Linked DNA regions of Homo sapiens. The protein of the gene in region 2 interacts with the protein of the main gene of each other region in a biochemical or structural test. Each region holds a gene or a part of one and is shown on either strand. Other genes may lie near its edges.

What was found.
Region 1: the proteins of AREG (region 2) and S100A5 interact in far-western blotting, tested with the Homo sapiens proteins (one study listed by IntAct).

The regions. Positions count from the first base shown.
Region 1 is NC_000001.11:153,537,986-153,542,258, reverse strand, and holds the start of S100A5 (protein S100-A5), read left to right. Parts: upstream 1-1,324; 5' UTR 1,325-1,638; exon of another isoform or gene 1,639-2,053; coding exon of another isoform or gene 2,054-2,067; coding exon 2,068-2,205; intron 2,206-4,273. UniProt on the Homo sapiens protein: Binds calcium, zinc and copper. One subunit can simultaneously bind 2 calcium ions or 2 copper ions plus 1 zinc ion. Calcium and copper ions compete for the same binding sites.
Region 2 is NC_000004.12:74,451,460-74,455,275, reverse strand, and holds the end of AREG (amphiregulin preproprotein), read right to left. Parts: intron 2,733-3,816; coding exon 2,639-2,732; 3' UTR 2,621-2,638; intron 518-2,620; 3' UTR 271-517; downstream 1-270.

The DNA.
Region 1 (4,273 bases), on a different chromosome or scaffold from region 2:
TACTACACCCTGAGCCCAGGTCTGTTCTTGGACTGGTGGTAGAAGTATGTTGTTCTACTGTGGTAGAACGATGTCTGAGTGTCTCCTGGGATACAGGAAACTCTCCCTGGCCCCTACTTCCTCCTTGACTGCAGCCTGAACCTGAACCCCCCTCCCCAATCCACAACCTCTACCCCAGTGCTGGGCCTTAGCCCTTCGCTGGACACCTTCCCTATTCCTGATTCTCAGTCCTCCATGCCAAGAGTCTCCGACGAGCCTTTCCTGTGAAGAGCAGTGAGGCCTAGAAGAAATCGTTCATTTAAAAGCCCTTTAAAAACCTCTGGGCCCATATTAGCTCATGACCTTGACCATATCCTTCGCAGAAAATATCTTCCTCCACTGATCCCCATCTCAAGGGCTGTCTTCTCTACTCCTGGAGTGGGTGGCAGGATGGGTGGGAGGGGCCCGATGTGGAGAGCTTCCTAGGACACGGGGAGATGGTGCCCTGTGTTTGTCCCACACTTCTGAGGTTTTCTTTCCAGGACAGCCTGGTTTCCCTTCTTCGGCTTATTGTTCCATCAGATTTCAGATTTTGAGTTCTGATTTTTGGTCAGAAGAGTAAAGTTTCTGGGATTGGGGACGTGTGTGCTATGGGAACTCAGTGTGTCCCCAGCCCTTGTTTGTAAACAAGGAAGGTGAGATTGGCAGAAGGGGTTTCTCCCCAGCTCCATCCCGGGAGGCTCTGACGTGGGCATCCTCAAGTCCCCAACAACTTCTCATGGGCCCTTTCTCTCCCCTGGATTCCTAGGGACAGAGATCAGGGAAATAAAGGCAGAAGGCAGTGAGAGGGAGGCTATGCCTGCTGCTTGGATTCTCTGGGCTCACTCCCACAGTGGTAAGTCCTTCCTTCCTATGTCTCTGTTCATCTGATATCTGGTGGGTCACGCTGGATGATGAGGGTGACAAGTGGTGGTGACCTCCACCAAGGAGGCCTGGCCCCACAAGCGGGCATGCGCTCAGGGAGAAGAGGGCAGAGCCTTTGGAATTTCTTGAGAAATGGCTCTGGGGTGGAGGTGGGGGTCTGGACTAGCCAGGATGCTCCTGCAGGTGCACAGAGTCCCTTGCCTTCAACTGTGGTCCCAGCTGAGTCTCCTTGAGGTGGGAGAGGCTGAGGTTTTTGTGGTGGGAGAGGAATGATGGGTCTGGTTCAAGAATGGCAGGGAGGGCTTTGGGCTGGAGGTGAAGACTCTCCACAGATTTAACCTGCAGCCTTCAAGTTCCGTGGGTGTTGCCTCCTTCCTCCCTGAGGGGGAAGTGGTTTTTGAGTCTGAGTCACTTGAGCTCCATCTGTCTCTTCCCTTGGCTGAGGGTGGCTGTGCTATTGGAATCCAGGCCCTTATTCAAGCGTAGCCTCTGGATCCAGGTTTTGGAATGATCCTGGAGATTTCAAGAGGCCCCCTGCCCTCCCTGCCCGCTGACCCGTCTCTGTGTGCACTGCTCTGGGCCAGAGTCTGGAGACCAGCTGGGCCAGCTCAGCTCACCTCCCTGCTGCTCCTTGTTGAGACCCCATCACCCAGTTCCAGCCCAGCCCCCTCTCAGCCCTGGACTCTCTCTTTGCCCTGTCCCCGACTTTAATAATGGGACACTCCTCGATATCAGGTGATTCAGGCACTGGGGGAAAGGCTGGTGAACTGCCTGTGGAAAACCAGTTCCTAAGCTGGAAGAAGCAGAGAGAAAATCGTGACCCTTGATCTGCTCCACCATCTGCCACCAGGGCCTTTTGAGGAGGTCGTCTTCTCATCTTTCTGCCTCAGGCCTACTTTTCAACAACTCCCCAGCAGGAGAGTCTGTGGTCTCCTTTGGGGTCTTGCTGTTCTCCTTGTACCAGCAGCTCCAGAGTTTGTTGTGGGTCTCATTGTAACCTGTACTGATATAGATGGGCGCTCTTGTTAGTGGATTTCAGTCTCATCCTGGGTTCCAGTCTCTTGTTCTTTGAGGGAGGGGCCTCAGAGGTAGGCTAGTGCTGCTGGTGGTGACTTCCTGAGGAATGGGATCTTCCCCTCTCCCTCTACAGAGCTGCACACTGTGATGGAGACTCCTCTGGAGAAGGCCCTGACCACTATGGTGACCACGTTTCACAAATATTCGGGGAGAGAGGGTAGCAAACTGACCCTGAGTAGGAAGGAACTCAAGGAGCTGATCAAGAAAGAGCTGTGTCTTGGGGAGGTAGGTGATTGTTCCCTCATCCTCCACCCCAAAGTCTGAGTACTCCCTCTGGGGGACACATACCTACCCTCAGGATCCTCCAGCCTAAGCCAGGGGCAGGGTGGCCAAGGGCTACAGACAGAGACAAAGGAAGATGGTGGGGATTTCGGGCCAGCAAAACTCTAGCCCTCTGTGAAGGAGAATGGGTCAGGGTCTCACTGAGAAGGAGGAAGGGCTGAGTCTGGAGGGTTTAGAGAAGGAGATTGAGGAGCCTTCGATGGTGGGGCCAGGCTCTCCCAGCAGTGGCAGAACCTGTGCTAGGGGTCATGGGTGGTGAAGGGATGCAGGGTGTCCAGGTCCAGCTGTGTACAACTCAAGTGTAGGGACTCTGCCTGATTCTTCTCTGTGTGCACAGCATGGCCAGGGCTCTCTGATGGTGCTGGCACTCAAACTGAAAGGTTAACTTGTAAACATAGGGTAGTGAGGAGACAGAACTGGTTCTCACCAGATGGAGGTGGTGGGAGGGAGGTGACTGACAGAGGGGAAGGCCCATGAGGTTATTATAATACAATATCCCCGAGGATAAATAAATAAATAAATATATATATATATATATATATATATTTTTTTTTTTTTTTTTTTTTTTTTTTGAGAGAGTCTCGCTCTGTCACCCAGGCTGGAATGCAGTGACATGATCTTGGCTCACTGCAACCTCCGCCTCTCAGGTTCAAGCGATTCTCCTGCCTCAGCCTCTTCAGTAGCTGGGATTACAGGCACGCACCATCACGCCCAGCTAATTTTTGTATTTTTAGTAGAGATGGGGGTTTCACCATGTTGGTCAGGCTGGTCTCGAACACCTGACCTCGTGATCCATCTGCCTCGGACTCCCAAAGTGTTGGGATTACAGGCGTGAGCCACTGCGCCTGGCCAAGGATAAATATTTTTGAGACAGAGTCTCACTCTGTCACCCAGGTTAGAGTGCAGTGGTGCGATCATGGCTCACTGTAGCCTTGAACTTTCAGGCTCAAGTGATCCTCTTACCTCAGCCTCCTGAGAAGCTAGGACTACAAGCAAATACCACCACGCTTAGATAATTTTTAAAATTTTTTGTAGAGATGGGGTCTCACTATTTTACCCAGGCTGTTCTTGAACTCCTGGCCTCAAATGATCCTATCGCCTCAGCCTCCCAAAGTGCTGAAATTACAGGCATGAGCCACTGTGCCTAGTCTTATTATTTTTATAGTTAAAAAAAATCAATGCTCAAATACATCAAATAACTTGCCTAAGGACAATCCGCTAGTGGGAGGCTGAGCTGGAGTTCTGGGCCAGGCCTGTGAATCATCCTCCCTGTTTCCTTTAAAATTTAGCCTGGGTGCCTCTCCATCTATCACACCTTGAGCCCTGGTAGGCCCTCCCAGAAAGAAGGTCCACAGTGTGCCACATGGGCAGGGGACAGAAGCAGGTATGGGCGTCCCCAGGCCTGATCTCTGGCCTTCTGCCAGGCTGCCTGCATCCTGGAGGTTAATGAGGGCAGAGGGAGGGGCCACAGGTCCAGCAGGGATTAATTACAGAAGGAGAGACGCCCAGAGGAGGGCCTGGCAATAACAGGAGCCCAGGCTGGGGACTAGGATCACGTGACAGACAAGCAGTTTCCGCCTTTGTAAGTCCCAATGTCTCCTGTGAAAACCTGTAGCTGACGGCAATGATGAGGAGACATCAGGATCTGCTTGTCTATATTTTCTTCCTGTTCCACCCAAAGGACCCTGACTCCATCGTCCTAATGGAGCCAGGCTGGGACATCAGGGGACTGAACAACAGTGCACAACCAGGCTCCAGGCAGGCCTCTTGCACAGCTCTCCTAGCAGGGGAGGGATGCAGTGGCTTCACAGCCCCAGTGCACTGCTCTCATTGAGAGACATTTTGTCCGGGGTTATTCTCACCTAGTCCTTAGAATGGGGAGAGAGTCACTCAGAGACTTGGATAATGCTCAATGCCACATAATCAGCAAGGTGTTCTTTTTTTTTTTTTGAGAAGGAGTTTCATTCTTGTTGCCCAGGCTGGAGTGCAATGGCATGATCTTACTTACTGC
Region 2 (3,816 bases):
ATTAACAGCACTTGGTATAAGTTCTACATTGGATAAGTAAGACCAATTTGGGATTATTATTATAAACACTCATGTTTGTGGGAGAACTATGTGACTCTAGATTATAATTCTCCCATGAAGAATGTCATCTAATAAAAAATGAGTTTTAAAAATCAACATAAAGACAGTAAAAAGAGAGAGAAAAGCCTTTTTAAATGATCAACCAACTGTTAGGAGAAAAGTACACTGGAGTCTTGCAATATCAGAACTAATATTCAAACTCTCAATCTGTTTGGTTAAAAAAGTTTAATGAGCTGTAAAATAAATACACTTCCATTAAATATTAAATAAATTATTTACAACTTGAAAAAATACTTTTTACCTTCGTGCACCTTTATATACAGAAATAGCATAAAAAGTGACAATTGAAAGTTTAAAACCATCATAACAAAAAGGGTCCATTGTCTTATGATCCACTGGAAAGAGGACCGACTCATCATTTATGGCTATGACTTGGCAGTGACTCCAATGTGATATCCTGTGAGAAAATAAAATAAAATAAAATAATAAAATAAAACAAAATGTTACAGATAAGCTCAATTCCAGCAGAGCTTTAAGAAACTTTAAAGCATAATCAGGAATCAGAATTTCTGTCAGTTGTTTTCTAGTACATCGTTTGAGAAATGCTAAGATTTTTCAGAGACCAACTCTTACTTCGGCTTGAGTTCCTCTTTCACACTTGCTTTGATTATACACCTAGTTCAGTAGAAGTCCACATATGCTCAAATCTGTTGCATCAAATTCTGCTTAATAAAAATGCAACAGCAGTCATGAGAAATAGTTTTCCTAACCAAATCTATGCAGTGGACATAATTAAAATCAAAGATTAACTGTCTCAGCATATTTATGATATATAGTTAATTTAGGAAAATTAGTACCAAGGGCATAATAATAGTAACTACCAGTTAATAGGCACCCACTATGTGCTAGCACAGCATATTCTTTTTCCTAAAATAATTCTGGGATCTATGCTAAAAAATCTCAGTGGCAAATAACCAAAAATCCATCCTTATTCACACTGGTGGTCTTAGCTTTACCAAAATTAGCCAATACATTAAAAATTTTGATGTAATAAATACTGAGTTTAGCATTGGTATGAATAATTACCCATTTTATGAATTATTGAGCTAATTCTGCAATAGGCTAAAAACAAAATATCTGTACTTAACCAATGCTAAATATAGCGTTGTTCAAGTATCAGAACCATCTGGAGTGTACATTAAAAATAGAATTCTGATTCAGTAGATTTAGGGCTGGGCTTAGGAATATGCATATTCAACAAGCATCTCAAGTAATTCTTTTTTTTTTTTTTTTTTAAGATGGAGTTTCGCTCTTGTTGCCCAGGTTGGAGTGCAATGGCGCGATCTTGGCTTACTGCAACCTCTGCCTTGCAGTTCAAGCAATTCTACTGCCTCAGCCTCTCAAGTAGCTGGGACTATAGACATTCACCACCACACCCAGCTAATTTTTTGTATTTTTAGAAAATTTTGTATATTTAGAAAAGGTTTCACCATGTTGGCCAGGCTGGTCTTGCACTCCTGACCTCAGGTGATCCGCCCACCTCAGCCTCCCAAAGTGCTGGGATTACAGGCCTGAGCCACTGTGCCCAGCCCTCAAGTAACTCTTAAACCTACTGAAGTTAGACAATCAATAACTGAAATGACATCATCTTTCTTGAATGTTTAAGGAAATAAAGTTCCTTCTTCTGACAAACTTTAAGTGTGTTCTTGATTTCCTTGCCTCCCTCTTCCTCTGGGAGTTTTCTTCCCTAGCTGCTCACTTTCATTATCAACGAAATATTCCTCTTCACGCCTTTTTACCTTATACCTACAACATGCTCAGTTCTCTCTCTTTACAAGAAAATATAAGTTTTCACCAACCTATTTATCAAATTTACATCCCCCTCCCTTTCTACTTCCTTTTGTAAAAAAAGAGCATTCAACCTATTGTCTGTCTCCATGCCCTCACATTATCAGTGCAAGCACCCGCAACTGTGGCTCTCCACCATGTGAGCTCAACCTATCATCACAACTGTATCTCCCCTAACACTCATTTAGATTAAGCCATTTTTCACAAGTTTCTAAAATTATCTCTTCCATTTCTCAGTATAACCCTTTCTTTCCCTTCACAGTTTCTTGAACCAATCTCACTAGTCCTTCAACGTTCACTTCCAAGGCCACCCCGAACACATCTTTTCCTCTTCCCTAAATAAATTCTACTGGATTCTTTCTGTTTTTCACTGGAAACTTCTCATACTCCATTGGTTCCTTTCTCATGACATTTATTTTACATCCCTAGTATTCTGGTTTCTTACATTTTTTTCCTATCTACTAAACAATAACTTCTTTGAGAACTGGACCAGTGTCTCTTATATTTATATCCCTAATAATACTTATTAAACACGTAGTCTATTCTCAACATTGAATTCCATCTTATACTCAAAGAATAATACTTTAACATAGCCATTGTTCATAGTGTATATATAATTAAGAACACATTCCATATTTTTCTTGAGATTATATAGTGTTAAATTTTTCAAAATTATAGGATATGATCTAAAGATATATTTTAAAACTCAAACCTGTAATTTTATCTTCAGTTATGCTATAGCATGTACATTTCCATTCTCTTGTCGAAGTTTCTTTCGTTCCTCAGCTTCTCCTTCATATTTCCTGACGTATTGTCTTCTAAGCCTTCAGAGAACAAGGCATTCTAATGTTATCAAGGTTCTATTCATCTATATGTTTGATTGGGGTTTTTATGAGTAGAGGGGGTTCCACTTCATGAGTAGTGATAGACCAGCAATCACTATACTTGACACTAAACCTAAACCTGGCTATAAAATATTACCAATTTCTAAGGGGGTATTTATGTTGACTGTATATAAATCCATTTCCAGAGGGCTTATATTTAAATGTGTCTTGATATACCAATTCTGAGAAGGTATGAAACACATCCATATGTCTTGTTTTTGCAGAACTTAGTACAGCTGCCATGCACAATTGGAGAAGATGATGGTATAGTTTTGCCATAGGAGAACTCTATACTTGCACAAATTAAATGATTAAATATTTTTGAAACAGGCTTACAAAACAAGTTGAGCTTTATTTATTTCTAGGTATAAAATATATCCTTCTAGTTTAATTTACTGCTGCTTTCCACTTTAAAAACTCAATTATTTAAAAACTTCTTGTTGTTGTATAAAAACCCCCTGTTGTTAGGAGGTCTTTAACCCACCACAAAACATTATCATTAAAATCATAAAAAGTTTTCTTTTATTGTAATAGTTGAGGGAAAAACTCACCTCAATTATGAAAACAAACCCAGCAACTTTTGCTTAGGTTTAGTGTTTGTTTTATGTTTCAAACACAAGGAGAATATGGGAGACACGGGGAAAAAAGCCACTGCTTAATTTTAAGAGTGCTAACATTAACAAAATCTATCCATTCTTTCCCAAAAAATGATTAAATATTTCAAGTCAAATAATTACAAGTTTAATTATTACAAAACATCTTCCTTAACTAGCGATTGTTTTGTTCTATCCTTTAAAATAATAATGGTTTGTCTGAGAGTATGTCTCCTAAACACCTTTGCATATCTGCCTTGAGGTACTAGAAAACCAGGACAAATTCTAGTGTGTGCAAAATAAATTTAAGCTACATATCAAACTTGATATGCATGATGAAACAATTTTTATGTGTCATGTTATGATGATCTCATCTAAATTTAAAATAATTGTCAACAATGGCAGAAGATAACCCCTTGTTTCCTGAATGG